Linked DNA regions of Homo sapiens. The protein of the gene in region 2 purifies or fractionates together with the protein of the main gene of each other region. This does not show direct contact. Each region holds a gene or a part of one and is shown on either strand. Other genes may lie near its edges. The genes, in order: ATP13A1, LRRTM1, PCNX3 and LRP11.

The links.
Region 1: the proteins of LRRTM1 (region 2) and ATP13A1 purify together in Homo sapiens (co-immunoprecipitation; 3 studies listed by BioGRID and IntAct, with this or other methods). This does not show direct contact.
Region 3: the proteins of LRRTM1 (region 2) and PCNX3 purify together in Homo sapiens (affinity purification with mass spectrometry; 2 studies listed by BioGRID and IntAct, with this or other methods). This does not show direct contact.
Region 4: the proteins of LRRTM1 (region 2) and LRP11 purify together in Homo sapiens (affinity purification with mass spectrometry; 2 studies listed by BioGRID and IntAct, with this or other methods). This does not show direct contact.

What each region holds. Positions count from the first base shown.
Region 1 is NC_000019.10:19,653,659-19,660,680, forward strand, and holds part of ATP13A1 (endoplasmic reticulum transmembrane helix translocase), read right to left. Parts: intron 6,330-7,022; coding exon 6,240-6,329; intron 6,134-6,239; coding exon 5,943-6,133; intron 3,751-5,942; coding exon 3,678-3,750; intron 3,492-3,677; coding exon 3,336-3,491; intron 3,259-3,335; coding exon 3,189-3,258; intron 3,109-3,188; coding exon 3,002-3,108; intron 2,526-3,001; coding exon 2,396-2,525; intron 2,276-2,395; coding exon 2,220-2,275; intron 1,997-2,219; coding exon 1,870-1,996; intron 1,796-1,869; coding exon 1,658-1,795; intron 1,582-1,657; coding exon 1,461-1,581; intron 1,043-1,460; coding exon 885-1,042; intron 487-884; coding exon 311-486; intron 237-310; coding exon 126-236; intron 1-125. UniProt on the Homo sapiens protein: Endoplasmic reticulum translocase required to remove mitochondrial transmembrane proteins mistargeted to the endoplasmic reticulum.
Region 2 is NC_000002.12:80,301,741-80,309,135, reverse strand, and holds LRRTM1 (leucine-rich repeat transmembrane neuronal protein 1 precursor), read left to right. Parts: upstream 1-4,383; 5' UTR 4,384-4,984; exon of another isoform or gene 4,985-5,140; intron 5,141-5,257; 5' UTR 5,258-5,316; coding exon 5,317-6,885; 3' UTR 6,886-7,258; downstream 7,259-7,395. UniProt on the Homo sapiens protein: Exhibits strong synaptogenic activity, restricted to excitatory presynaptic differentiation, acting at both pre- and postsynaptic level.
Region 3 is NC_000011.10:65,618,772-65,625,793, forward strand, and holds part of PCNX3 (pecanex-like protein 3), read left to right. Parts: coding exon 1-296; intron 297-765; coding exon 766-889; intron 890-982; coding exon 983-1,161; intron 1,162-1,567; coding exon 1,568-1,658; intron 1,659-2,059; coding exon 2,060-2,195; intron 2,196-3,434; coding exon of another isoform or gene 3,435-3,473; coding exon 3,474-3,595; intron 3,596-4,719; coding exon 4,720-4,873; intron 4,874-5,157; coding exon 5,158-5,190; intron 5,191-5,423; coding exon 5,424-5,595; intron 5,596-5,699; coding exon 5,700-5,810; intron 5,811-6,153; coding exon 6,154-6,245; intron 6,246-6,399; coding exon 6,400-6,509; intron 6,510-6,633; coding exon 6,634-6,739; intron 6,740-6,855; coding exon of another isoform or gene 6,856-6,880; coding exon 6,881-6,973; intron 6,974-7,022.
Region 4 is NC_000006.12:149,847,343-149,854,364, reverse strand, and holds part of LRP11 (low-density lipoprotein receptor-related protein 11 isoform 1 precursor), read left to right. Parts: intron 1-1,173; exon of another isoform or gene 1,174-1,204; coding exon 1,205-1,362; exon of another isoform or gene 1,363-1,381; intron 1,382-1,800; exon of another isoform or gene 1,801-1,951; intron 1,952-7,022.

The DNA.
Region 1 (7,022 bases), on a different chromosome or scaffold from region 2:
GGAGGCGGGGCAAGGAGGACAAAATCACAACCATTCAACCTGGCACTGTGGGACACAGGAGGTGACTCAGGGAGGAGCTGACGGGCCAGGCACATGGTGAAGGCAGGGGGAGCCTGGGCCCGTACCTGCTGGTGAGTGAGGTGTCCCAGCTCCTTGTACCCCAGCGCCAGGACGCGGGCTCCTTCCCGGGAGATCTCGGTGTGGATGTGGTGGTAGTCGGGCGGGCACTGGGAGAACTGCAGGGAATGCAGGGGGATGTCACGGGCTGCCCCGCGCCCCCACCCCTTGCCCCAGGCTGGGGCCAGCTCACCATGGAGTGCAGAGTTTCGGGGGCCCCCTTCACGGCCGCGATGTAGCAGAGGTCGGTGGAGCCCAGCTTCTCATACGAGGCAAGCACGGACATTCGCTTCAGGGCACTGGCAAAATGAAAGCGCTGGTGAATTTTCAGCCCCTGAGTTTTAATACTTCGGGGGAATACTTTCTCATCTGGAAACAAATAAGTACGAGTCCTGAGGGGCTTTGCTCCAAAGAGGCAGCCAAGCCCCTACCTCTCACCCCGGCCTCCCCCACCTCCCTCCTGCCTCCCCCAGGGCCTGATCGGGGCTCTGGGCTAGAGCAGGTGTTGGTCCAGAGCTGGAAGACCTGGGCTTGGAGGACCCTGGCACTGTGGCTTCGGCCAGGGCAGGGCAGATTCCAACCCAGAGGGACACCCAAGGACGTGGCCTATCCTGGGTCTAAAGTGAGCCTCTGGCCACCCACCTCGGGGAGCATCAGAGCTGTAGGCCTGCCTGTCCCCAAGATGCTCTGAGGGGTGCAGCCCACCTGCCTAGGGCTGTGAGAGCCAGTGGCTCCCCCTTGCTGGGCCTGAGGCCCCAGCCCCTCACCTTTGGTCAGCGTCCAGTCCACGGCCGTCAGCATGGCCTTCTCTAGAGGGTCACCCACGAGGGTGCCGTCGTCCAGCTGCATGAGCGAGTGGCACGAGGCCAGGGCCCGGTGTGTTTCTACAGGGATGCTGGACACTGGGGTCACCTCCTTCCCGTCTCTGCAAGGTCGGGGAACAGCTGGTTACAGAGTGCAGGCGGGTAGGGCGAAGCTGCATCCCCACCAGCAGAAGGACCCCCAAGGCCATTCATTCCGTGCTTGTCACTGGGGTGGCTTGGGCGCCAACTGGGTCTTTATGAGACCTGCACCTGCTTCACAGATGCCCCCAGAAGCCAGGCATTGTGCCTGGGGGTCATGTGGTGCATGGCTGGTGTGGGATGTTCCAGGCCTGAGCTGAGCCCCCGTGCCGCTACCATGGCTGACACCCAGGACTTTGTGGGGAGCCCCTGGAAATGAACCCGAGGCAGGGCCTCTGACGGGCCCTCACTGCAAGGGCTTGGGGTGGATGGGCCACCTGTCTCTCGACTTCCCAGAAACCCCATCTGGGTGACCTTTGCTGCAGGGCCCCTGATGCTTACCTCAGCCCGGCCACACCGCGCACCACCAGGCTGTCACTGGTCAACGTCCCCGTCTTGTCAAAGCAGCACACCTCGACCTTGCCAGCAAAGGGGATCCGGAAGGGCTCTGTGCAGTACATGTCTAGGGGCGGGAGTGAGGTCAGGGGTCCTGCTTGGCCCCAGCCCACTCGGCACCCCATCCCATTTGACACACTCACAGAGCTTGGCCAGGGCGATGAGGGAGGTGTTGACGGCCAGGGACAGCTCGATGGGCAGCTCAGGAGGCACGACCGAGGTGAGGATCAGGGTGCACTCCAGAAACAGCTTGTAGCGGTTCCGGCTGGGGTCCTTGGTACCTGTGGAGACAGGGCCTGCCAACCTGGAGCCTCGGAGGGTGGGCGCAGGGGACCACAGAGGCCGTGGCGCTTACCTTCAATCCATACATAGGCAGCTGCAGCGATGGCAAACACCAGGAGGAAGAGGATGAAGATGAAGGTCTCCAGGTTGTTCGCAGTCACCCTCTTGACCCCGAAGAGGATGGTGCGCAGCAGCTTGCCCTGGAGGAATGGAGGAACAGCCTTTCTGCTGTCTGGACTCCCTCCAGCAGCTCAGGCCTGGAAGCGTGGGCCTGGTCTTGGGGTGGCCTCTGCACCCTGGCCCAGGTCCAGGGCCGTGCTGCCAGAGTCAGCCCGTGGGGCAGATGTTCTGGGGTCGGAAAGGGCTGATACCTTGGCTGTCCAACTGCCCTGGGGCCCGCCCTCCCCAGACCTGGCCCCGCACCTGGGATGTGTTGAATCCGGTCCGCAGGACGTAGGCCACGCACCCGCTGTCAACCGCTGGGGAGAGAAGCAGAGTCACCGTCATGCCTGTCTCCTCGTCCTGACTCCCTCATGATCAAGCAGACGGGCAAAGGGGGTGGAAGCCCAGATACCCCCAGACGCCCATGAGGCACCTACGCTTCAGGCCCGTGGTGGCTTTCTGTGGGGGGATGTGCTGCACCACCTTGGTGCCCCCGAAGATGACGTGCAGCCGGGAATCAGCCTGGAGGTCCAGCACCCGGTCTGGGCTGAGGTCTTCGATGGGCTCCTGGGGAGGAAGATCGTGAATCTGGATGGCCAGGCCTACCTTGCTTCCTTCTCCATCTGAGTTCCTGGACAGCTGGACCTTGAGGCTGGAATGAGCCAGGGGGATCCCCACCCGACCAATACATCCCACCCAGCTCCCAGATCCTCACCCTCACCCCGTCCTGTCTTCTCCCCATTGCACTCACAGTGCCTGCTCTCTGGGGCCTGCACTTGGCCTCGTCTGGGACTCACCCCTCTGGACTGCTCCCAGCCCACCTTGGTCTGACATCCCAGGGCACCAATGTACCCTGGATGCCCTTGGCTCTCTCACCTCCTTCCTCGCCCCCACCACCCGGCTCCCCAGTCCACAGAGCTCATCTGTGCCCACACTGCCTCCTCCGCCTGTGCCTGAGGGGGATCCCCGCCACCCCCTGGGCCTCCACCTCCTGGCCTGTTTCCTCCTGAACAGCTTGAGGATCCCCATCCTCCACCAAGTACCTTCATCTGTGGCACGGACTCCCCCGTGAGCATGGCCTCGTCTACGATGCAGCGGCCTCGCAGCAGAAGCACGTCACATGGCACCAGGTTCTCCTGTGGGGAGCGGCCTGCAGGGCAGAGGCAGGAGGGTTGGCCAGAGGCCCTGAGGCTGGGGCTCCCACTGGGACTGAGCGGAACCCGGCCTCACCGATGGAGACGATGTCCCCTGGTACGATCTCATCACTGGCAATGGGCCTCCACTTGCGGCTTCGGTAGACCTGGGCGGGGCATGGGTGTCAGCACAGAAGCCGCACCTGTGCTGCACCCCCAACCTGGGTCTCCCTGGCAGCCACACCTGGATCATGTGGGGCTTGTTGCCCATCTTCCGGATCTCCGACATGTTCCGCATCTGCTGCTGCACCAGCGAGGCCTCGAACGCCACCAGCATGGATAGCGTAAAGACGCTGTAGTACCAGTACTCATCCAGGCACCAGAGCCCCACACAGAACACCTGTGGGATACCAGCCTGTCTGTCCTTGCCCTACCCGCCCTGTTCCCATGAGCCCCTTCCACCCACCGGATCTGATATGTGAGGGTGGGGAGAGGCTTCCAGGTTTAGAAGTGGTGGGCAGGCTTGATCCGGTTAGGAAAGCCCCAAGGGAGGAAATGGGGAGATGGGCCAGAGCTGCTGCTTTACCTGAAATACAAAGAAGGGGGCTGTGGCTCTCTCCTTGAAAAGCTCCGAGAAGTCAGGCACCACCATCTCGGCCCTGCAAGAGACCAGGCCCCATCCTGTTCCCAGGGCAAGGCCTCTGGGGTATGGAGTCTCCACCCTGACCCCTCCAACCTGAGCATGGCAGGCCGCTCTCAAGAAACCAAGAGCCATATGTGGGCGTCGGGAGCCCTGGCGAGCTTCCAGATAGGAGGATCCATTTGGCAGTGGCTCTCCCTCATCCTGGCTGAGCCTGGGGTAGACATGCTGCCCGCCCACAGCCCTCGGCTCTGCATAAAACAGATGAAGCTCCTTAATCTGCAATATGCTCTTCCTGGCAGCCTGGGGCTGGTGTCAGACGAGAGCCCGTCATCTGGTCGAGTGACACAGCAAGTAGAGAAGGAACCTCTGATTGAAAGATGGAGGCCCTGAAGCTACAGACAGCAGAAGACACTGAGACCCAGCCCCACCAAAGCTGAGATTTTCTATGATTCCTGAATTAAAGCCCCAGAATGGGTCGAGTAGGGTGGTTCACGCCTGTAATCCCAAGCACTTTGGGAGGCCGAGGCAGGAGGAGTGCTTGAGCCCAGGAGTCAGAGACTAGCCTGGGCAACACAGCAAGACCTTCTATTTACAAAAAATTTAAAAATTAGCTGGGGGTGGTGGTGTGTGCCTGTGGTCCCAGCTATTTGGGAGGCTGAGGCAGGATGAATGCTTGAGCCCAGGAGTTCAAGGCTACAGTGAGCCATGATCACACCACTGCACTCCAGCCTGGGTAACAGAGTAAGACCCTGTCTCCAAAAAAAAAAAAAAAAAAAAAAAAGGCTCGAGAATGCAAGGACTTGGGCCTAAGGGTGTGTTCTGCAGTACTCTGTGCCATAGTCCAATCTGATCAGGGCACCAGTCATGTCAACGAGGGTCATTCTCGCTCTGCCCTTTAACTGCATGGACGTCTTATGTATGGGATGTGAGAAGAGGAAACCAAAGAGCAACCCCACTGCTATCAAACAATAAGCCCTTCCCTTGTATCTTGCTGGGTACCTTTGCGTTGAGTAAGAACAGCATGAAAGGGAACGTAGTTGCCACAGGCCATTAATGTGACTGGCCAACCTTGGGGTAGGGGAAGTTGCTAAATGTTTCTTATAAATCCTTGTATTAGATTGATAGTTGTAGTCAACATATTTGTAATCTCTGAACAGTGATTAAGTCAGGAAAGAGCTCCCTAGGTGTTCTGTGGGTTTCTGGGTTGAGGACCATCGTAACAAGGCCATGATGGGGTTTGGAGCCCAGTTCTCCGGCTCCCAGCCACGTGTCAGCATTTGCAGTTTTGGTGAAGATGAAGGGAGAGGGTGTGCACCGCACATTGGCCATTGTACTCAGTACAAAAGGGCAGACATGGTCACGGTCTTCCATCACCATTCTGAAGCGCTGAGATGCGTAGACTCGAAACAGTGAGGACTGAAATGTTTAGGTTGGGTGCAGTGACTCATGCCTGTAATCCCAGCACTTTGGGATGTTGATTTAGGAGGACTGCTTGAGGCCAGGAGTTTGAGACAAGCCTGGGCAACACGGCGAGACCCCATCTCTACACAAATAAACATTTTAAAAGAATTTAAAATAAAGCTGTTGCTGAGGAGGGGCCACAGGCTAGACTCCTGTGAAGAACCTTACACTCAAGGTCTCACACCCCAGGGCACGGGCTTCCAGCTGCAGACCCTCTGGGGTTCCTGCCAGCAGGCAAGTTCAGGGGAGACTGGACTTAGAGCATGTTGCTCAAGCGGCATCACAGTCACCTGGGACATTTGGCTAAAAGGGCAGATTTGGCCGGGTGCAGTGGCTCACGCCTGTAATCCCAGCACTTTGGGAGGCCAACATGGGAGGATCACCTGAGGTCAGGAGTTCAAGACCAGCCTGGCCAACATGGTGAAACCCCCATCTCTACTAAAAATACAAAAATTAGCCAGGCGTGGTGGGGGGAGCCTGTATTCCCAGCTGCTTGGCAGGTTGAGGCAGGAGAATCACTTGAACCGGGGAGGCGGAGGTTGGGGTGAGCTGAGATCGCGTCACTGCACTCCAGCCTGGGTGACAGAGCGAGACTCAGTCTCAAAAATAAAAAATAAAATAAAAATAAAATAATAGTAAATAAATAAATAAAAGGGCAGATGCCTCTGTCCCGCTTCCTAGGCACCCTGAATCAGGAGGGGAGCAGGACAGAAAGGCAAAGGTGCTACAGGCAAATCAAGGACTCACTTGTTGCTCCCAAATTTCTTCTCAGCTGCTCGGATCTCTGAGTCTTCCTGGAAGCCTCTGTTGCTCTGATAGTATGAGAAGGCGTTTCCCACAGGAAAGGCCACGGGGAGAAACTGCTTCTTCTCCAGGGCATCGTAGGAATACTTGATCTTCTGGAATTCGAAGGACAGCACCTCAAGCCCGTCTTCGCCCTGCGGTAGAAGGTGTGTTTGCCACAGAGGCCCCTGACCTTGGGGTGTCAGCGCCTGGGAATCCTACTCAAGCCCCTCCTCCAGGAGCCCAGCAGGCAGTCCCTACCTCATTGCGGTGCAGGGCCACGAGCTCCGTGGAGCCATTGTTGGGGGTTGGCACCACCTTCACAAAGGTCGCTTTGCTGGGGTCGTACTCCTGACAGAGACAAAGAAAGCATTGTGGCTTAGCTCTTCTCAACCTACAGTTCCAAGACCCCCCCGGGAGGTTTTGGGTGCAGCAGCTCTATGGGTATATTCTGAAATGCCACTGGGCTCTGGTGCTGCCTCTGTCACTCCCTCGTCTGTCATCAGGACAAACGAGACCATCTTGCTGTGCCTCTGGTGCCACACTTAAAGCTGGGAGCACAAGGCTGGGCACGGTGACTCACACCCATAATCCCAGCACTTTGGGAGGCCAAGGTGGGCGGATCACTTGAGATCAGGAGTTTGAGATCAGCCTCGCCAATGTGGCGAAACCCTGTCTCAACTAAAAATACACAAATGAGCCGGACACGGTGGTGCACACCTGTAATACCAGCTACTTAGGAGGCTGAGGCAGGAGAATCCCTTGAACTGGGAGGCGGAGGTTGCAGTGAACTGAGATTGCAACACTGCACTCCAGCCTGGGTGGCAGAGTGAGATCCTATCTCAATTAAAAAAAAAAAAACAAAAAACCAGCCAGGCACAGTGGCTCGCACCTGTAATCCCAGCACTTTGGGAGGCCGAGGTGGGCAGATCACGACGTCAGGAGATTGAGACCATCCTGGCTAACACGGTGAAACCCCATCTCTACTAAAAACACAAAAAATTAGCTGGGCGTGGTGGCAGGCATCTGTAGTCCCAGCTACTT
Region 2 (7,395 bases):
TTTTCTTTCTCTCTCTCTCTCTCTTTTTTTTCTTTTTTCCTTTTTCTGAGACAGAGTCTCACTCTGTTGTCCAGGCTGGAATGCAGTGGCGTGATCTCGGCTCACTGCAACCTCCACCTCCCAGGTTCAAGTGATTCTCCTGCCTCAGCCTCCTGAGTAGCTGGGATTACAGGCACCCACCACCACGCCTGGCTAATTTTTGTAGTTTTAGTAGAGAGGGGGTTTCACAGGTTTCACCATGTTGGCCAGGCTGGCCTCAAACTCCTGACCTCAGATGATCTGCCCACCTCAGCCTCCCAAAGTGCTGGGATTACAGGCATGAGTCACCATGCCCAGGAGAACTTGCATTTCTATTTATTATTATTAATTCATTTATTATTTCTTTTATTATTTATTCTCATCATTTACATCATTCATAGAGCATGGCAGTTAGTTTCTTATTGCTATCCATGTTACCACGTTGCTTTAAGAGTTGGACAAAGTTTGATAAGTAGAATGACCTCAATTTCTAATTTGTTTCTCCTAAGTGGATCTCCTGAGAGCAGCCTTGGGGCCCCCACCCTCAGCCTCTCCATGCACCTTTTGAGCATTCTGTAAAATGCCAGCTGTATGGTATGTGCCCACAGAAACAACAAAGTTAATTCTCTCTTTTTGAAATTGTGACTCCCACTCTCCGCCAATTCTTCTAAAGGTTTCCTTTTAAAGAAAAGCCATGGTTCGCTGCCACTGAAAATTAAAGACAACAGCATAAAGATCAAGGTCCAGGCTGGTGCTAGCGATGACAGAACATTAAAATAATCACTCAAATTTCCTTCCTTGAACATTGACAAAGATTGCTAATGGAAAGCCAATCCCCAGAATGCAGATTCATTTCAGACTTTCTGCACTTGCACCTCTGTGTTCACAAATTATTTTGACTAAAATGAACAAATTGGAAGTGTTGAGATAAAACAGAAGTAATGACATACCAAAAAAAAAATTGTATGTTACTCCCCCACTCCACTTCACAACATAGAGTACCACGAAAAACAGGAGGGCTCATTAGGCAAAGGCTAATTTACAAGGTTGAAGAGAGAAGGAATTAATCGACTCTTCCCTCCGTCAAGCTATACTTCTGGCCTCTCTAACTACAACGAATTTGCTCCATGAGCTTCTCTCTTCTACCTCCCCTTAGTTCCAGATTATGTTTGGCCATCAGATTCATAACTCATATAACCCAGACTTCCTTCCCATTTGCTGAATCCATATTTTCAAGATTCTTATCATTTCTTACCCCAAACTGGAGGTCTGGCCTCAGTGCCCAATCACATGTTGGCATGATGGCTTGGGATGGTATTCTTGATGCCCAACTATTAGTACTAGACTTGCAGCTATAGCGGTTCAGCTAGATGAGCTCAGGTTCCTTCCCCTGACAAACATGGAAAATGTCAAGGGTATTTTCAAAGCATATAAAGCATCTCTTATCCAATATACAACATTTGAAGAAGAAGTTTGCCAACAGAAATCTATGGTCACCCGGGAAGAAGAGATTGATCCAGTACATGCAATAGCTACATTGTAACCTGGTGAATCAGATATTTTCAAAAGACAGGTACAGACATATGAGAGAATAAGCAGGAGGAAAGAAAAAAAACTTCAGGTGAGCTTTTTTTTTCTTTTTTTCCTTTTTTAGTTCATTGGACACTTACAGGCATGAAATTAAAACTCATGAAAAACAGCCATATCGACTTGCTGTGGTGACTCAAAAGTTGTCGTTTCTCGATTCAACTTTGCTGAAACACTCGATTCATGTTGTTCTTATTTAACCTAATTTGCATTGATTTAATCAGTGCTGGTATGCTTTAAATACATAATAAATTGGGATTCTGCAACTTAGATGACTTAGAATAGCTAAATTTCAATAAAGCTCATTTCAATCTGTTAATGTATACGGTTCTGCCAAGGGGTTTAAAACTGTAGAAAAGATGCAAACTTGCCACATTAGAGGTGGGAAAGGCTTAAAGATACCATATAGATGAAATGATTTGCAGGATAATAATGCAAAAAGCAATATATAGAAAATATATATTTATATATAATATATATATATAATTTATTTATTTTAATTACAGCCTAGGAGCATCTTGTAAGTTTTGAGTAGCACACTTAGAAGAAAACTCACATATAAATCAGTGAATTTAATTTTATTCCCTTTCTTTCTTGCCAACACTCAACTCTTCTGCCTCTCTGCACCAGCTCTACAAATCAAGTGACATCCAAAGTGGGACCTCTTCTTGCCCATTTGGCAGCCTCTGTCACCACTTTGCCAAGCAGCCAGCATTAGGAGGATTTTTTTTTTTCCTAGCAACCCTAGGGATTGGGTGGTGTGTACTCACAGTACTCGCTGAATGGCTGGCCGCTGTTTAACCCTGCGGGTGCCTCCTCAACACCCCTCCCCCACCTCCCAACCCTTTAGAGTTTATGGCTCCATCAGCTGGCCTGCTGTCACGAATAATTGTCTTGGCAAGAGGTGAAACCACTTGATGGTGAATTTGTTTGTCTGTCTGTTAAAGTGTTCCGCAGCACCTTGGAGGTGCCAGGATGAAACATGCAAATGCCTGATCCAGAGTTAGGTAGGCAGCAAGAGTGACAGAGAGGCAATCATCAAGAATGGCAAATTAAGAAAGAAAGAAAGAGAGAGAGAGAAAGAAAGAAAGAAAGAAAGAAAGAAAGAAAGAAAGAAAGAAAGAAAGAAAAGAAAAGAAAAGAAAAGAAAAGAAAGAAAGAAAGAAAAAACCATCTGTGCCAGTTGCAAGCTGTATGACCTTGGATAAACCATGATGTCTCTTGGCCTCAGTTTAGTCACGTGCAAAATTAAGGGGGTTGATTTTCTAATGTCTCTTCTAACTCCTAAGACAGCATGTGATGTCTAGGACATTTCAGATTTGTGTTCCTTCCAATTAAATGATACATCTCAGAGATGAATGACCAGGGCAGAGCTCAGATGAATACAAAATGGAATGATTCATGCCCCTGTTCATATGACTTTTCCTGAAAAGTACCACCAGTCTTTGGTGACTTTGATTCCATTGGTTGGCCTCTTCAGCTTAGATGCTAAGGACCAATCCAGTTACTTGTCCAGTCTATCTACCCTGGCTCTGGTAATCCACCCTCATTCCTATCAAAGTAAGTGCCACTACATATAATGCCTACTGATTTTGACTTCCTTAGAGGCAGAAACGATGGGAATTCAAACAGTGGAGCTGGAGACTCACATTTGACTCTCCCTACCATCTCCCTGGGCATCTTTGTCAAGAAGGAAGGCTTGCCCACACTCACTTCCCGCAGGCTTTCTCAGCCATCTTGGAGGACTTTGTTTAAACAGATGACCAACTGACCCTCCCCAGGGCAGACCCTCTACAGACCAGTAGGCACAAGGTGTGTGTGTGGGGAGGTGGGGGGAGAGCTCATTGTAAGGACTCCTATCTATAAATGATTATGAATAGAAATAATGAGGCAAAGGCTTCTCGTCATACTCAGAGGAAAAAGTGGCACAACTTAGTGCAGTCTCAAAGATTAATTAGGATGTGTGTATGGAGACGGGTAGGCTTCATTATGGCTTAAACTATCACGTCCCTACACATTCACACTCTCTTGGAGTGGGGTGCACTGCAGGGCCCAGTAATCACCATGAACAGCACAAGTCAGGGTAAGCCCTCCCCATGTCAGACAGTACAATCGTTCTTTAATCCACTCTGTACCCCATATGTATCTGTGGAGCCTGATGAAGCCCCGGAGGGATCTCAGTCAAGTCTCCCTGCACACAGACATACCTTTTTGCCACACTGGATCTCACACCACCGGGACTTGGATGGCTTCCCAAACTAGGTGGGTTTGGAAAGCATTTCCCCTCTCCACCTCAAAAAAGGGCTGGCTGACTGCAGAATTCCAGTACCCGCAAGAGGGGGAAAAAACCCCAAAAATCTTAGCCAAGCCCCAAATCATTGCCTTCCTGTGTCTTCTCTCAAGTTGCTTTTCTAAAGCAAAGGTCCAAACGTTGATTTCTCTACAGATTCCTACGTATCTCTTACACGTAGACAGTTTTAAAGGGGAAAAGAATATATCCCCAAAAGGCAAGGGGGAGAGCACAGAACATTTCAGTTTCCCACTTGGAAATATCTTGTCGTGGATGATGCTACCCCTACCTCCACCTCCCTCCCCCCTCCTTTTTTTTTTTTTTTTTTTTTTTGAAATATGGACAAAAAAGCTGAAAGTGTTTTCCGTTTCATCAAAAAACATATATTACTTTAGTGGTTCGGTAAAATGTTGGTTTTATGCCCACCCCTTTTCAATCTGCCCATGTCTGAGGTGCTCGGGGAAGACGCACAATCGTGAGCAGCTTACGACACTCAGTGAGCAGTAGGTGCCTGTGCAAGCTCGCGCCGCACACTGCCTGGTGGAGGGAAGGAGCCCGGGCGCCGCTCGCCGCTCCCCGCGCCGCCGTCCGCACCTCCCCACCGCCCGCCGCCCGCCGCCCGCCGCCCGCAAAGCATGAGTGAGCCCGCTCTCTGCAGCTGCCCGGGGCGCGAATGGCAGGCTGTTTCCGCGGAGTAAAAGGTGGCGCCGGTCAGTGGTCGTTTCCAATGACGGACATTAACCAGACTGTCAGATCCTGGGGAGTCGCGAGCCCCGAGTTTGGAGTTTTTTCCCCCCACAACGTCACAGTCCGAACTGCAGAGGGAAAGGAAGGCGGCAGGAAGGCGAAGCTCGGGCTCCGGCACGTAGTTGGGAAACTTGCGGGTCCTAGAAGTCGCCTCCCCGCCTTGCCGGCCGCCCTTGCAGCCCCGAGCCGAGCAGCAAAGTGAGACATTGTGCGCCTGCCAGATCCGCCGGCCGCGGACCGGGGCTGCCTCGGAAACACAGAGGGGTCTTCTCTCGCCCTGCATATAATTAGCCTGCACACAAAGGGAGCAGCTGAATGGAGGTTGTCACTCTCTGGAAAAGGGTGGGTAAGACACTTTTTAATTAAATTCTTTCCCGAAGATTTTTTTTTTCCTCCCTTTTCTTTGCTGCAGCATCTAACATGGACCAAATCACCATCTCTTTGATCTTTCCGTGGCTGTGAACTTTCTATGCTGCCCAGCTTTCTGCATGCTTAGAGGTGAACGTGTGGTTTTTGGGGAGGGGGGTCCTTCTTTATTTCTATGTATTTATTTGATTTTTTGCCCTTTTCTCCCCCTCCCCCGCTTCCCCTCCCTCGGAATAAAATATGATGTAGATTTCTGACCGAGCGCTTCCAATGGACATTCTCCAGTCTCTCTGGAAAGATTCTCGCTAATGGATTTCCTGCTGCTCGGTCTCTGTCTATACTGGCTGCTGAGGAGGCCCTCGGGGGTGGTCTTGTGTCTGCTGGGGGCCTGCTTTCAGATGCTGCCCGCCGCCCCCAGCGGGTGCCCGCAGCTGTGCCGGTGCGAGGGGCGGCTGCTGTACTGCGAGGCGCTCAACCTCACCGAGGCGCCCCACAACCTGTCCGGCCTGCTGGGCTTGTCCCTGCGCTACAACAGCCTCTCGGAGCTGCGCGCCGGCCAGTTCACGGGGTTAATGCAGCTCACGTGGCTCTATCTGGATCACAATCACATCTGCTCCGTGCAGGGGGACGCCTTTCAGAAACTGCGCCGAGTTAAGGAACTCACGCTGAGTTCCAACCAGATCACCCAACTGCCCAACACCACCTTCCGGCCCATGCCCAACCTGCGCAGCGTGGACCTCTCGTACAACAAGCTGCAGGCGCTCGCGCCCGACCTCTTCCACGGGCTGCGGAAGCTCACCACGCTGCATATGCGGGCCAACGCCATCCAGTTTGTGCCCGTGCGCATCTTCCAGGACTGCCGCAGCCTCAAGTTTCTCGACATCGGATACAATCAGCTCAAGAGTCTGGCGCGCAACTCTTTCGCCGGCTTGTTTAAGCTCACCGAGCTGCACCTCGAGCACAACGACTTGGTCAAGGTGAACTTCGCCCACTTCCCGCGCCTCATCTCCCTGCACTCGCTCTGCCTGCGGAGGAACAAGGTGGCCATTGTGGTCAGCTCGCTGGACTGGGTTTGGAACCTGGAGAAAATGGACTTGTCGGGCAACGAGATCGAGTACATGGAGCCCCATGTGTTCGAGACCGTGCCGCACCTGCAGTCCCTGCAGCTGGACTCCAACCGCCTCACCTACATCGAGCCCCGGATCCTCAACTCTTGGAAGTCCCTGACAAGCATCACCCTGGCCGGGAACCTGTGGGATTGCGGGCGCAACGTGTGTGCCCTAGCCTCGTGGCTCAACAACTTCCAGGGGCGCTACGATGGCAACTTGCAGTGCGCCAGCCCGGAGTACGCACAGGGCGAGGACGTCCTGGACGCCGTGTACGCCTTCCACCTGTGCGAGGATGGGGCCGAGCCCACCAGCGGCCACCTGCTCTCGGCCGTCACCAACCGCAGTGATCTGGGGCCCCCTGCCAGCTCGGCCACCACGCTCGCGGACGGCGGGGAGGGGCAGCACGACGGCACATTCGAGCCTGCCACCGTGGCTCTTCCAGGCGGCGAGCACGCCGAGAACGCCGTGCAGATCCACAAGGTGGTCACGGGCACCATGGCCCTCATCTTCTCCTTCCTCATCGTGGTCCTGGTGCTCTACGTGTCCTGGAAGTGTTTCCCAGCCAGCCTCAGGCAGCTCAGACAGTGCTTTGTCACGCAGCGCAGGAAGCAAAAGCAGAAACAGACCATGCATCAGATGGCTGCCATGTCTGCCCAGGAATACTACGTTGATTACAAACCGAACCACATTGAGGGAGCCCTGGTGATCATCAACGAGTATGGCTCGTGTACCTGCCACCAGCAGCCCGCGAGGGAATGCGAGGTGTGATTGTCCCAGTGGCTCTCAACCCATGCGCTACCAAATACGCCTGGGCAGCCGGGACGGGCCGGCGGGCACCAGGCTGGGGTCTCCTTGTCTGTGCTCTGATATGCTCCTTGACTGAAACTTTAAGGGGATCTCTCCCAGAGACTTGACATTTTAGCTTTATTGTGTCTTAAAAACAAAAGCGAATTAAAACACAACAAAAAACCCCACCCCACAACCTTCAGGACAGTCTATCTTAAATTTCATATGAGAACTCCTTCCTCCCTTTGAAGATCTGTCCATATTCAGGAATCTGAGAGTGTAAAAAAGGTACCAATCATTGATTTTTTTTTTTTTTGTAAACTAAAATGTTTAAAATAAAATAGCATTTACAGTTTTTACAGACTGGTGTAACCTAAATGAATTGTTACCTGTGTTACAAGAAAAGCAACAGTTAAAATTTCCTTGGTGGGTGGGGAGGGAGTTGTCCAGGGGCCAGAAGGAAAATCCAGGAGCAACGTAGTCAGATTCAAT
Region 3 (7,022 bases), on a different chromosome or scaffold from region 2:
CCCCCATGGGGCTGAGGAGGGAACTGCTGTGCCCCCCAAGCGGCCATATGGGACCCAGCGGACGCCTAGTACCGCCAGCGCTAAAACACATGCCCGTGTGCTGAGCATGGATGGGGCTGGGGGTGATGTTCTGAGGCCCCCACTGGCTGGCTGCAAGGCAGAGCTGGAGGCCCAGGTTGGGGTGGAGCAGGCTGCTAGTGAGCCTGTTGTGCTGCCTGCTGAGGCGCGAAGGGGACCCGCTGCCAACCAGCCCGGCTGGCGGGGGGAGCTGCAGGAGGAAGGTGCTGTGGGGGGAGGTGAGTGCTTGCTCTAGAGGCAGGGGCTGGGGGACGTGAGCTACGGGCTTGGGGTTGGGCAAAGGGCAGGTAAGAATGGACCTGGTCAGTGTCAGCTCAGCCTCGGTTGTAGGCAGCAGATGGACGTGGGCCTGGTGGTGATTGACATTGTCTGCCAAACCTCTTAGACATGGGGCTCAGCCACCTGGCTCCACATCCTTGATTAGCACCTGAGTCTCTGTCCCCTGAGGACTCTCATCATCCACACTCATCCTCCCACCACCAGTGGGGTGGGGCAGGGCCGATCAGTGTCATCCTTGTTTGCAAGTAAGGAAACTGAGCATGGGGCTGTGTGACCTGGCTGGGCCTCAGAGCCGGGGCGTGGTTGTACTAGGCCTTTAGCTCCCTGGCGGAACACCGTCCCCAACCTTACTCCCCCAGCCTTGTCTGAGCATCTGTCACTTACACTTGGGGGCCTCTCTCTGGGCAGCGGCCGAGGAGACTGGCAGGCGGGACCGCTCAAGCAGTGTGAGGCGGACCCAGGCCATTCGGAGACGCCACAATGCAGGCAGCAACCCCACCCCTCCAGCCTCTGTCATGGGCTCGCCGCCCAGGTGAGCACCTTGCCAGCTGTGCCGAGGGGCACCGGGGGCCGGGGAGGGCCCGCAAGCTCTAGCTGGCGCTGACCTGGGGCTGACCCTCTCCAGCAGCCTGCAGGAAGCTCAGCGGGGCCGGGCTGCCTCCCACTCCCGGGCGCTGACGCTGCCCTCTGCGCTGCATTTCGCCTCTTCACTGTTGCTCACCCGGGCCGGTGCCAATGTGCATGAGGCCTGCACCTTTGATGACACTTCTGAGGGTGCTGTGCACTATTTCTACGATGAGAGCGGTGAGCCTTTCCCAAGCCCGGTGGCCCAGTGCCTCCCCGCCTTCCCCCAACAGCCTGAGTCCTCCTAGCAGTGGTGCTCGCTCGGCCCTGTGGCAGGTACACTGCTAATGCTGCCAGACATCATCCTTGCAGCCTCTTTGAGGCACGGTGTCTCTGTCATCTTTTGCTCTGCTGATGAGGAAACAGAGGCTCAGCTTACAGTACAGGGGAGATCTAAAGCTAGGACAGGTGACTGCCGCGCCCAGGCTCTTGACCTGTAGGCCCTTTCCTCTCCAGAGGCTGGGCTGCCCTCTCAGAGGACACAGCACAAGGTTCTGCCTCATTTGATGGGTCTGGTGCCCACGTGAGCCGGGCCTTGGTGCTTCTGTCTCTGCCACGCTGCCTCATCTCCCATACCCTGCCCCAGGTGTGCGGCGTTCCTACACCTTTGGCCTGGCTGGAGGCGGCTACGAGAACCCTGTAGGGCAGCAAGGGGAGCAGACAGCTAATGGAGCCTGGTGAGTTCCCAAGCCTGGCCTCCCAAGCCATTGTCTTGGTGGCCTGCATCTCTGGGAAGTTCCCTGAGCCTGGAGTTTGCTCTCTTCCTGCTGGGCTTGGGCAGGGGCAGCTCAGATCTGCAGGGAGAGGATGGGGAGCAGCAAAGGACAGACCTCCTGGGGTCCCTGGCTCCATGACACTCCGGGCAGGAAGTTTCTAGGAAGCCCAGGGCACAGCCTCGACACTCGTGCCAGGGTCTGGGAGGGAGGCACTTCTGCCACCTGACCCCAGCACTTGTCCCTTGAGCCCTGGTTGGTCTCGGCACAGACAGCCCTACCTGCCTGGCCTTGGCCTCGGCCTCGACCCCACCCAGCCCCAGGGCTCGCCCGTGGGGGGATCCTGATGGCTGCTGTTCTCACAGGGACCGACACTCGCATTCCTCCAGCTTCCACTCGGCTGATGTCCCTGAGGCTACAGGCGGCCTGAACCTGCTGCAGCCGAGGCCTGTGGTTCTGCAGGGCATGCAGGTGCGCCGGGTGCCCCTGGAGATCCCGGAGGTGAGGAGCAGCCGGGGAAGGGCCGTGCCAGTGGGGCGTGACGGGGCGGGCAGATCACTGAGTCCGGCCTGCATAGAGAGCTTGCCCAGGTGCCCCAGGAGGGACGGGCAGTGCTGAGTGAGCGCTCCAGGGGCCCTACTGTGTCTGTCCTGATCTTTGATGTTGGCAGAGACTCTGGGTCTGAATGGCTGGAGAAGTCATTTATTTGCTTACTACGAATTCCTTTGGAGTACATTCCTAACTCTGGAGGGTCCCACAGTGAACAGGGGCCATGGGTGTTAATGATGATACTTGCGGAAGTGGCAGTGTTCTGTTAGCAAGCAGGGACCCTGTGATGACTGTGCTGCCCTGCATACACTGTGCACGTGTGGCTGCTGGGGTGCTCTCTGTTAACACTTCCTGTCTCAGTATACTCATTACCAGCGCTCTGTCACTCTTAAGAATATCACAGTTTGGACAGTAAATTTGTATACTTAATCTATTAACACCAGAAGCGCTAAAAATGCGTGAAACGCCATCTTAGAGCTTAAAGAATGATCATAAAAGGGTACCCGGCACCTGACCCTCAAGGCCACAGATAGGTTGGGCAGCCCCCAGAAGCTCCCACCTGCCCGCTTCTGGTTCATTTCTTCCTTGTAACCATGTGGGGTGGAAGCGTGGCCGGCGGCCGCCTCCAGAGGGAAGGGTTGCGTGCCTCTGGCTCGCCATTTTATCCTTGGATCCCAGGGCAGGGCCGGGCCCATAGCTGGGGCCCCACAAGTGCTTGTTGAGTGAAGGATACAACAAATGAGAGGTCAAGTCATGTGCCCAGGGCCTCAGGGCTGGCATTGGCACCTAGGCATGTCCTCAAGGCTGAGCCCTGCATGCACGCTCGGATGGGGTAGTCAGAGTGACAGTGACAGGCCCTGTCTGGGAGGAGGGTAGCATTTGTGCCAGGTCCCAAAGGACAAGTGGACTTCCTTGAGCTTCAGAAGAGGTGGGAGAGTTTGCCTGACTGGGGAAGACAGGCGTGGGAGCGGGTGACTCTAGGCAGCCCCTGCAGCCACTGGGCGACGTCCTGGGAACCTGGAGAGAGGAGGAGCCCTTTCAGATGAAGGGTTCTGGTGGGGTCCAGGGCCGCTAGACAGGGGCCTTTATGTGCTGATGGAAATGGTCAACCAGACCGGTGTGCTGAAGGGGGGTAACAGTAGACCATGTGGGGGGTGGCGGGGCTGACGGCCGCGGCTGTGGGGACTGCAGTTTGACCTGCTGGACCAGGACTCCCTGCACGAATCCCAGGAGCAGACACTGATGGAAGAAGCGCCACCCCGGGCCCAGCATAGTTACAAGTACTGGCTTCTCCCTGGCCGCTGGACCTCTGTGCGCTATGAGCGGCTTGCCCTGCTGGCTCTGCTGGACCGGTGAGTGTCCCGCAGCCTTGGCCCCCAATTCTTGGAAAGCCCCTGGACCTTGGCTCCCCAGACTCTGTACCTGTGGAGGCAGTCATGGCAGCAGAGAGCCTGACTCGGGGGAAGCTGAGGGCCTGTCGTTGGCTGGAGTCTGCAGTGGTGGTTTCTATGGTTCATTTGTGGTGTAAAGGGGTGGCCAAGTGGGTGGTGCTGTATTAAATCTGTTTATTCCAAAGTCCTGCTGAAAAAAACTTTTTTTGAGACGGAGTCTCTCTCTGTCGTCCAGGCTGGAGTGCAGTGGCATGATCTCGGCTCACTGCAAGCTCCGCCTCCCAGGTTCACGCCATTCTCCTGCCTCAGCCTCCTGAGTAGCTGGGACTACAGGTGCCCGCCACCACACCTGGCTAATTTTTGTATTTTTTTTTTTTTAGTAGAGATGGGGTTTCACAGTGTTAGCCAAGATGGTCTTGATCTCCTGACCTTGTGATCTGCCCGCCTCGGCCTCCCAAAGTGCTGGGATTACAGGCGTGAGCTACCGCGCCCGGCCATCCTATTCACTTTTTTTTTATTAGCTTCTGTTGATTTGAAAATCGAGTGCTGTAACCTAGAAAAGCTCACAGACCAGTTATCTCACTTTTCCCATTTCTCAGAGGGGACACAGAGTCCCAGAAAATCCAATAGAGAAGTCAGATGACTTCTACCCAGTGTAGAGAACTTGGGCCTAGAGCCCATGTGGCTTCCCGTCCATCTGGGTTTCTCTAGGCACAGGGACTGGGTGCTGGTCCTGTGTGCATAGCGTGGCACGCCCAAGGCAGCATGCACGATGTAGCCACGTGCAGTTAACTCAGTCTCAGCTGGGGATGGATGAATCCCGGGAGTAATGGCACCCTGAGCTCTCAGCCCTCAATGTCCAGAGCAGGCAAAGATTGGGAAGGAGAGAGCAATACAATGGTCGCTGGAGCAGGTGCTGCCGGGCCGCGTCGTCGCAAAGTTATAGGTGTTCACATCTTCAGAGGACAAGGGTCTGGCATGGGCACAGTCCCAGAGCTGGGCCTTTAGGGCAAGATCCATCTTCCCCACTGCCCCACTGGAAGGTGAGGCAAGACGGGCACGCCCTGACTAGGCTGTCCCTGCAGGACGCGGGGAGTGCTGGAGAACATCTTCGGCGTGGGCCTGAGCAGCCTTGTGGCCTTCCTGGGCTACCTGCTGCTGCTCAAGGGCTTCTTCACTGACATCTGGGTCTTCCAGTTCTGCCTGGTCATCGCCTCCTGCCAGTACTCCTTGCTGAAGGTCAGGCCGGGCTCTCTGTGTTTCCTTCCCCACCCGACTTTTCCCAAGATTGCCCTTCCCACAACTCCAGTTTTAAGGAGTATAAGCTGAAAGGTAGATAATTTGTCTAAGGTTCCCTAGAGCTGGCCAGCTCTTTTACAAGCAAGAAAACTGAGGCTCAGGACAGTTCGGGGGCCTGACCTGGTCACTCATAACTGCCTAGTGGTGGAGCTGAACAGGTCTGGGGCCTCTGACCATCCCGTGGGCATCGGCTCTAGTTGCCAACGTAGCCCTGTCTCTTCCAGAGCGTGCAGCCTGATGCGGCGTCCCCCATGCACGTGAGTACCCATGGAGCAGCGCCTCTGGCCAGGAGGCCCCGGGAGGGGCTGAGACCAGGTGGGGAGGAGGGTAGGGTATGGAGGGCTGGGGCTCCCTCACCACCCCCATCACCCCCACCTGGCCAGGCTCTCCAGCTTGGACCCAGGGCCAGGCCTGGGGCCCTTGAGTGTGTGCATGTGTCAGAGGTGTGGCCAGTCGGGGAGACCCAGCTCCTCATGGGCTGACCCCTCAGGGCCACAACTGGGTGATCGCGTACAGCCGTCCTGTCTACTTCTGCATCTGCTGTCTGCTCATCTGGCTGCTGGACGCCCTGGGCTCAGCTCAGCCCTTCCCACCTGTCTCCCTCTACGGCCTCACGCTCTTCTCTGCCTCCTTCTTCTTCTGTGCCCGAGACGTGGCCACTGGTGAGGCTGGGGCAGGGATGAGGTGGCCCAGGAGAGTGAGTCCCCGAGGGTGGGCCGCGGAAAGCCAGCAGGCTGACCAGGCCTTCGTGTCCCCTCCCTGCCAGTGTTCACCCTGTGCTTCCCCTTCGTCTTCCTCCTGGGCCTCCTGCCCCAGGTCAACACCTGCCTCATGTACCTGCTGGAGCAAATAGATATGCACGGCTTCGGGGGCACAGGTATGATGCCCACAGGTGGCTCAGGGATGGGGCCCGTGTGGAGGCCCAGGAGGGCCCTCGGATTGGGTCCTTGGCTCCACCCTTGCGGAACCTTCTCCTGCGTCTGTACTGCAGACTCAAGGTTTCTGCCTTCTCCCCTCTCCTTCCCTCCCCAGGCAAGTGGTTTATATCTGAGAATCTTGGAAGCTCTAAAGGCCGCTTGGGGCTTGGGGCAGCAGAGAACAATGGGCTGGGGGTGCCTTTCCAGGGAGGCCAGCCTCTGGGAGTTGAGGGGAAGCGCGGCTAGGGTTGAGGTGGGGTACCTGCAAGTGAGAGCTGGGCTGTACTTCTCCCTTCCACACAGCTGCCACCAGCCCGCTCACGGCAGTCTTCAGCCTCTCCCGCAGCCTGCTGGCTGCTGCCCTGCTCTACGGTTTCTGCCTTGGGGCCATCAAGGTAGGGGTGGCTTGCGAGGTGGGGGCATGCTGCAGTGCGTAAGGGTGGTTGGGGCGGGGCTGTGAACTGGGCTCAGCAGTGGCTTCTCACACGGGGGCAGCCCGGGCCCCATGCTTACCTCACCTCCCCTGACCAGCATGGATTCTCTCCGCAGACTCCGTGGCCAGAGCAGCACGTCCCTGTCCTCTTCTCAGTCTTCTGTGGCCTCCTGGTGGCACTGTCCTACCACCTGAGCCGGCAGAGCAGCGACCCCACCGTGCTCTGGTGGGTGTGCTCCGGGTCGTGTGTTTGTGTCTGCCCAGTAGGGGTTTGTGGTCTGTGCATGTGCCCGTGACTGGGGCCGGGGGGAAGGAGGGGCGGCCTCCTCCTGACTCTTCCTCACCCCCAGGTCTCTGATCCGGAGCAAGCTGTTCCCTGAGCTGGAGGAGCGCAGCTTGGAGACAGCCCGGGCCGAGCCCCCGGACCCCTTGCCGGACAAGATGCGCCAGTCGGTGGTGAGGGGGCGGGGGGTGGGGGTCTGTGGGGAGGTGGTGACAGGTCCTGGGGTTCCTGGGAGGGGCATGTCCAGCTTGGGCTGCTGGGCAGCTGAGTGTCTCTCCTGGCCGGGCAGCTGAATGTCTCTCCTGGCCCTGCAGCGTGAGGTCTTGCACTCCGACCTGGTGATGTGTGTGGTGATCGCCGTGCTCACCTTCGCCATCAGCGCCAGCACCGTCTTTATTGCCCTGAAGGTTTGTGTGGCATGGGCCGCTGCTGCCTCTCGCTGTCTTGGCGGGAGCC
Region 4 (7,022 bases), on a different chromosome or scaffold from region 2:
GAGGCTGAGGTGGGAGGATCACTTGAGGTCAGGAGTTCAAGACCAGCCTGGGCAACTCTCACTACAAAAGAGTGAAAATAGGTGGGAAGGTTAGCACACACCTGCAGTCCTAACTACTCGGGAGGCTAAGGCAGGAGGATCACTTGAGCCCAGGAGTTGGAGGCTACAGTGAGTGAGCTATGATCGTGCACCAGCCTGGGTGATAGAGACCCTGTCTCAAAAGCAAAACAAAACAAAAACAAAGGTAAATACAGATTTATTTTGCTGTTGTAGTCATCTGAGCCTGCTGGCTTCTATTATAAAAATTAGTTATTAGAAACGGTGAACGTCTTCAATTTTCCTAGATGAAAAATTGGATTCCAGAGAATTTACATGCAGGCTTTATTTTGTATGGCTCTAAAAATTTGCCTTAACTTTTCAAACTTAATATATTTCCCATTCATTGAATACTTTATATCACTCCTATTTTTAAAACTTGAGGATAAGAAAAAAAGAAAATCCATATTAGAGGTGAATTTGGTGTTTTTCAGGTTTGTTTTAATAATCTTTTCAAGGCCAGGCGCAGTGGCTCACGCTGCTAATCCCAGCACTTTGAGAGGCCGAGGCAGATGGATCACCTGAGGCCAGGAGTTCGAGACCAGCCTGGCCAACATGGCAAAACCCTGTGTCTACTAAAAATACAAAAAACAATTAGCAGGATGTGGTGGCACACACATGTAATCCCAGCTACTCGGGCGGTTGAGGCAGAAGAACCGCTTGAACCCGGGAGGGAGAGGCTGCAGTGAGCCGAGGCTGCACCATTGCACTCCAGCCTGGGTGACAAGAGCAAAACTCCATCTCAAAATAATAATAATCTTTTAAAATAAATTTATTTAACAGTATTTTGAACTTAAGTGATTTTAAAATTAAGTGAAAAATCCACTCTAGAAAATAAAACTGCTTCTCCATATTTACACATTGGTGGGACCTCGTATGCTGCCTTGTACCCAAAATCGCTACCAGCCAACACTCCACACAGCCTCTTCTGCGCATATTATAGCTAAATTCCACGATCATAAAATAAATAGAAAAATAATTTCCATTTAATATGGATTCTCTTAGCAGTTATTTGCCGAATCATATCTATTCAGCAAACAAGATACCTCTCCATAAATTAGAAAAAATAAGAAATCATCTTTTATGAATTATTTATTTTCTTTCTCAGAAAAGGATGCGCCTCCACTTAGCAAGGCTGGGCAGGATGTGGTTCTGCATCTGCCCACAGACGGGGTGGTTCTAGACGGCCGCGAGAGCACAGATGACCACGCCATCGTCCAGTATGAGTGGGCACTGCTGCAGGGGGACCCGTCAGTGGACATGAAGGTAACGCATGTTGTCACTGCTAACAAAAACGAGTATTTCAGTGAAGTGGTCTTTTGTAATGTCCTGCCACTTCATGCTCCCTAAATGTCTGTACGCTAGCAGAAGGCATAAAATGGAGACTGTATAAAACTGATTATGCCAAAATGGTTTATTATCTCAATGTGCTTTTCTGCTGAGAGTGAGCAGCAATCTCGATCATTTGTCTTGGAGCCTACCCTCCTTCTAGCTGCTGTTTGTGACTTGTCTAGAGGACAAAGACACTTCAAGGAAGAAGGCTCATGCTTTGTTTTAATGACTCAGATTACTTTTTTAAAGTTCTATTTCTTTTTCTGAGCTCAAGATCCAGGTAGAAAATTTGAAACTACAAAGGAGTCTAAAGAGGACAATAACAATAGGATGAACTTATCCTTCACATGAGCCGGAAAGTAGACAGCTTACCTGGCAGCTAGGTCTGCTGGGGCACACCGAGCCTGTGAGGGAGGGAGGCCAGCATGCGGTGCTCCTGCCCGGGGCTCCTGCCCGGGGCTCCTGGGATAGCCGCCGATGGAAATCAGCCATGTGGCTGGTGGCTGCCTATGCTCAGGAAGTCTTGGGTGGTGAGACAAGTGGCTTTTTATTCACCCTCTCAGGGTGGATTCCTGGCTTAGGCAAATAAGCACTTCCTGGCTTAGGCAGATAAACTGCATCCAAACCACTTCAGTTAGAGGAAGTGGAGAAAGAGGGTGAGGTAAGGAGGCACTGATTTGTACTCTACTGGAACCAAAACAAAAACAAATCTGGAAGTCCCTCATCACTGGTTTAAGTAAGAGTGATTTTACTCCCTGATTATATTGCATTAGAATTGGACTCACCCTCGTCCAGTATGGTTTGCCTTTGTCCCCACCCAAAAATCTCATCTTGAATTGTAATCCCCATAATCTCCACGTGTCAAGGGAGAGACCAGGTGGAGGTTACTGAATTATGGAGGCAGTCACCCCCATGCTATTCTCATGATAGTGAGTGAGTTCTCGCAAGATCTGCTGGTTTTATAAGTATTTGGTTGTTTCTCCTGCCACCTTGTGAAGAAGGTGCCTTGCTTCCCCTTTGCCTTCTGCGGTGATTATACTAGTAAGTTTCCTGAGGCCTCCCCAGCCATGTGGAACTATGAGTCAATTAAACCTCTTTCCTTTGTAAATTACCCAGTTTCGGGCAGTTCTTTGTAGCAGTGTGAGAATGGACTAATACACCCAGCATCCTTCCCAGCCTCTCCTCCAAACAAGAGTGCCTTCCACAACACCCCTTCCAAGGCTCATCTGCCATCTGTCTGACTTTTCCAAGGGCAGAAGCTCACTACTTCACATCATGTCCATGACATTACTCATCACTGTGTTGGGCAAGCAGGCTACGCCTCCCCTTACTTCTGTGCATTGGTGTTGGGTCTTCCCTTTGGAAAAACACTGAACTCATCTTTTTATCCTGTGTAAAAGCTTTGGAAGTCTTTGAAAAAAAGAAAGAAAGAAAGAAAGAACATCACCAATTGGTATGCTGTTCTCAGAACTCAGCACCCCACAGTTTGTCAGATGTTCCTCATATGAATTGATTTTTCAGGCCCGCCACTATCCTGCCTTGTCTGGATTTTCTCATATTAATCCATACCCTTCTTAACATCTAATACCCCTAATTGAACCCCATATTTAAGCTTTGGTTTTCTGACTCATTCATTACCTACTGTGATCCAGATATTGCCTCTCCTTCTATTAATGAGCTTCGTTACATGAACTGTGTCAGTAGCTGCATCACACAGTGGGTTCGTGCTGCATTTTTCTTGCCTTCAAGAGGAAACTCTGAACCAGTTCCCAATCGTGTATAACAGTGACGGCAGGTAGACCTCAAGTTATGAAGCCATCATCTAAATGACAGGGCCTGTACTAGGGGAAACATCTGTTACCAATTTGTGACTGTCTTAGAATGATATACATTCATGAATGTCACCCAAAGTTAACACTCATCCTGCTGAGACTTCATCATAATCAAAGCCCCCACGGATTGAGCACCCACTGAGTGCCAGGCAGCTTAGAGAGATCTGTAATCCACTGGACACCCTCACTTGTAGGCACATCCCCATTTGGTGGATGAAGACTGTCAGGAAACATTGTGGAAGACTTTGAGGTGGGCAAAAGATTACTAAGTACCTTTCAATGGAATGCTGGGTTGGTTAGTGGATCCTTCAGGGTTAACATCTATAAGTTGCAGAAAACTGATAGTAACCAAATGATTCTTGTCCATAGAAATGCAAAAGAAAATTAGGTATATAGGGGTAATTGACTTTCACCCTAGAGAAAATAAGATTTCAAACATGACATTTTAGTACATGTAGATACTAACCGATCTATTAGTAGATTCATTTCAGTACTGATTAGCAAACCCATTTCAGTTTTGCATCTCCTAGCAACTTCTTTTTGGCATTCATGATTGCCTGTATATGTGTAGTCTTCAGATTCTTTAAATCAGTTGAACACCTTATTGGTTCCCTCTTTAACTAATGTCTTTGAAAAATATTCATATTATATTTGTGTGACAGTCATAGCTTTACTATTTTGAGAATTTTCCTTTAACAGTAATTAACCCTCAGGAGCTATGCCTCTGATCCCTTTAACTTGAGCAGCCTTATTTCACACCCCAACATTTCTGCCAGGAGAATTGGGCCTCTCAAATCAAATTCCTTTTTCTCTGAGAATGGCTTCCTGCTGACTGGAACACTGATGCACTCCGCCCTCAAGCTGCAAAATGGGGCTAAGTTTGAAGGTTGTTGAGAATAGAGGGAGGGCAGTCACACAGCAAAATAGTTAAGTTAAAACCTGTTATTGGATGCCCTTGTTCCTAAGTCCCTTGACTGTCCCTAGCACCCAAGAGTGTCCATTGATTGGGCTTTCCCCTGAGCGCCCATCTCCTCCTCTTCTTGAGCCATTCATCCCTCCTCTCATCTCCCCTGCTCTCCACCATCTGCACGGGCTCCTCACCCTTGCTGTCTGTTCTCAGGCAGAGTAGTGATCTCTCCCTTTGCCTCGTGATACTTTAAGATCAGCTTCTAGGGCCCATCTTTTCATGTCCAAGTGACCCAGACAGGTATTCAACCTGCAAGGAATTATGCTGTCAGATTAGTTATGAAACAATTAATAGTTAATTTTTAAGCATCTGGTATGTGTCCAGTACTGTACTAGGCACTAAGCATACAGGAAAGCTCATGTTCCTGACTTGTCTCATTCATTCGTTTATTCATTCATTCATTCATTGACAGGGTCTCTGTTGCCCAGGCTGGAGTGCAGTGAGTGGCACAATCATAGCTCACTGCAGCCTCAAGCAGTCCTCCCACCTCAGCCTACTGAGTAGCTGGGACTATAGTCATGGCTAATTTTTTTTTTAACTTTTTGTAGAGATGAGGTCTCACTATGCTGCCCAGGCTGATCTCAAACTCCTGGGCTCAAGCAATCCTCCCTCCTTGGCCTCCCAAAGTGTTGAAATTACAGGCATGAGCCACAGCACCTGATCTGTCTTTTTCATTTGTGAAGACAGAATGGATGATTGGTCAGAACCAAGAGGCTATCCACTGGATTTAAAGTTATATATTTTATGCCCTTGAACAGGATATTTTACATCCACTTAACTGAATATTTATAATACATCAAAATGCAAGATGACACATATTTTTCAGGCAACCCATTAAATGATGCTGACTTTCATGGTTATTAAACATAATACATTTAAATCTGAAGTCAGAATGTAAAATATGACATTTAGGAACATGATACAAAGTAGGACATTCAGGAGATTTGGAATTCATAAATCAGTATATTGATTTACATTCGTCAGTTGCTTAAAATTTTCTAAATGATTATCTTAGTCCATTTGGTCTGCTATAATAAAACACCATGACTGGGTGGCTTCTAAAGAGCAGAAATGAATTTCTTTCAGTTCTGGATGCTGGGAAGTCCAAAATCAAGGTACAATCAGCTTTGGCGTCTAGTGAGGACCCATTTCTTATTTTATAACCAGCCATCTTCTCACTGTGTCCTCATATGGCAACAGAGGCAAGGCAGCCCTCTGGGGCCTCTTTTATTTTATATTTAAACATATTTTAACTTTTAGGTTAAGGGGTACATGTGCAGGTTTGTTATATAGATAAACTTATGACTTAGGGGCTTGGTGTACAGATTATATCCTCACCTGGGTATTAAGCATATTACCCAGCAGTTTTGTTTTTTTTCTAAACCTCTCCCTCCTTCCATCCTCCACCCTCAAGTAGGTCCCAGCGTTGTGCTGTTCCCCTTTCTCTGTCCATGTGTTCTCATTTAGCTCCCACTTATAAGTGAGAACATGTGGTATTTGGTTTTCTGTTCTTGCATTAGTTTGCTGAGAATAAGGACCTCCAGCTGCATCCATGTTCCTACAAAGGACATGATCTTGTTGTTTTGTATGGCTGCATAGTATTCCATGGTGTATATGTACCACATATTCTTCATCCAGTCTACCGTTGATGGGCATTTAGGTTGATTCCATATCTTTGCTATTGTGAATAGCGCTGCAGTGAACGTATGCATGCATGTGTCTTTATAGTAGAACAGTTTGTATTCTTTGGGTATATACCTAGTAATGGGATTGCTGGGTCAAATGATAGTTCTGTTTTTAGTTATTTGAGGAATTGTCACACCACTTTCCACAGTACACCACTTTTCACAATGGGTGAACTAATTTGCACTCCCACCAGCAGTGTGTAAGTGTTCCCTTTGCTCCACAACCTCACCAGCATCTGGTGGGGTTTTTTTTGTTTTGTTTTGTTTTTTACTTTTTAATAACATGGGACCTCTTTTATAAGGGCACTAACCTCATTCATGAGCACGTATCTCCAAACGCCATCACACTGGGCGTTAGGTTTGAACATGTGACCTTGGGAGGGCACTCAGCCATTCAGTCTACAGCAGTGACTTCAGAAAACCACACGTAAGGAAGCTTGCTAAAGGATGGGCATTATTTAAACCAACAACTTCATTATTAAATTAAAACTAACTGCATCCTGGCCTACCTGCTGTACATAATTTTTTTAAATAGACAGGTATTACTAAGTCTTTGTAACCAAGTATATACAATGTGTGTGTGTGTGTGTGTGTGTGTGTGTGTGTGTGTGTGTGTGTGTGTGTGTGTAATTTAGTTTAGACATATATGAGAAGCCCAAACGTGTATTGCTAGCCACTGAATTCCTAGCTAGGAAGATGGGGTTGAGTCAGACAACAGGCTGAGTCATTCATTGATTTGGCCAGAAGCCAACCACCAAAGGCTGTTACTGCTGAACAGGGATCTTGAGCAGAGATTGGGAGCTCCTGGTTTATGATCATGTCTTTTTCCAAGTTACAAATTGGATATGTTGTGTGTACATATATAGATAGTTTTTTATCCTGATACTTGGAACATGTCTGTGAAACACTGTAAACCCTCTCTCCAGTGTCATCCTAATGGGAGAAAATGTATAGAAGGGTCACCTGGGCCCTTAAAGGGAAAGCATCCGTGTGACAGTTCTACATCTTCTAAATATCTGAATGCAGGAGAGACAGCTCTCGTTAGCTAAAAGAGCTAGGGAAGGGACATTCAATCTGGATAGATCTAAACTGGAGTGTGCTCAGGAGGCT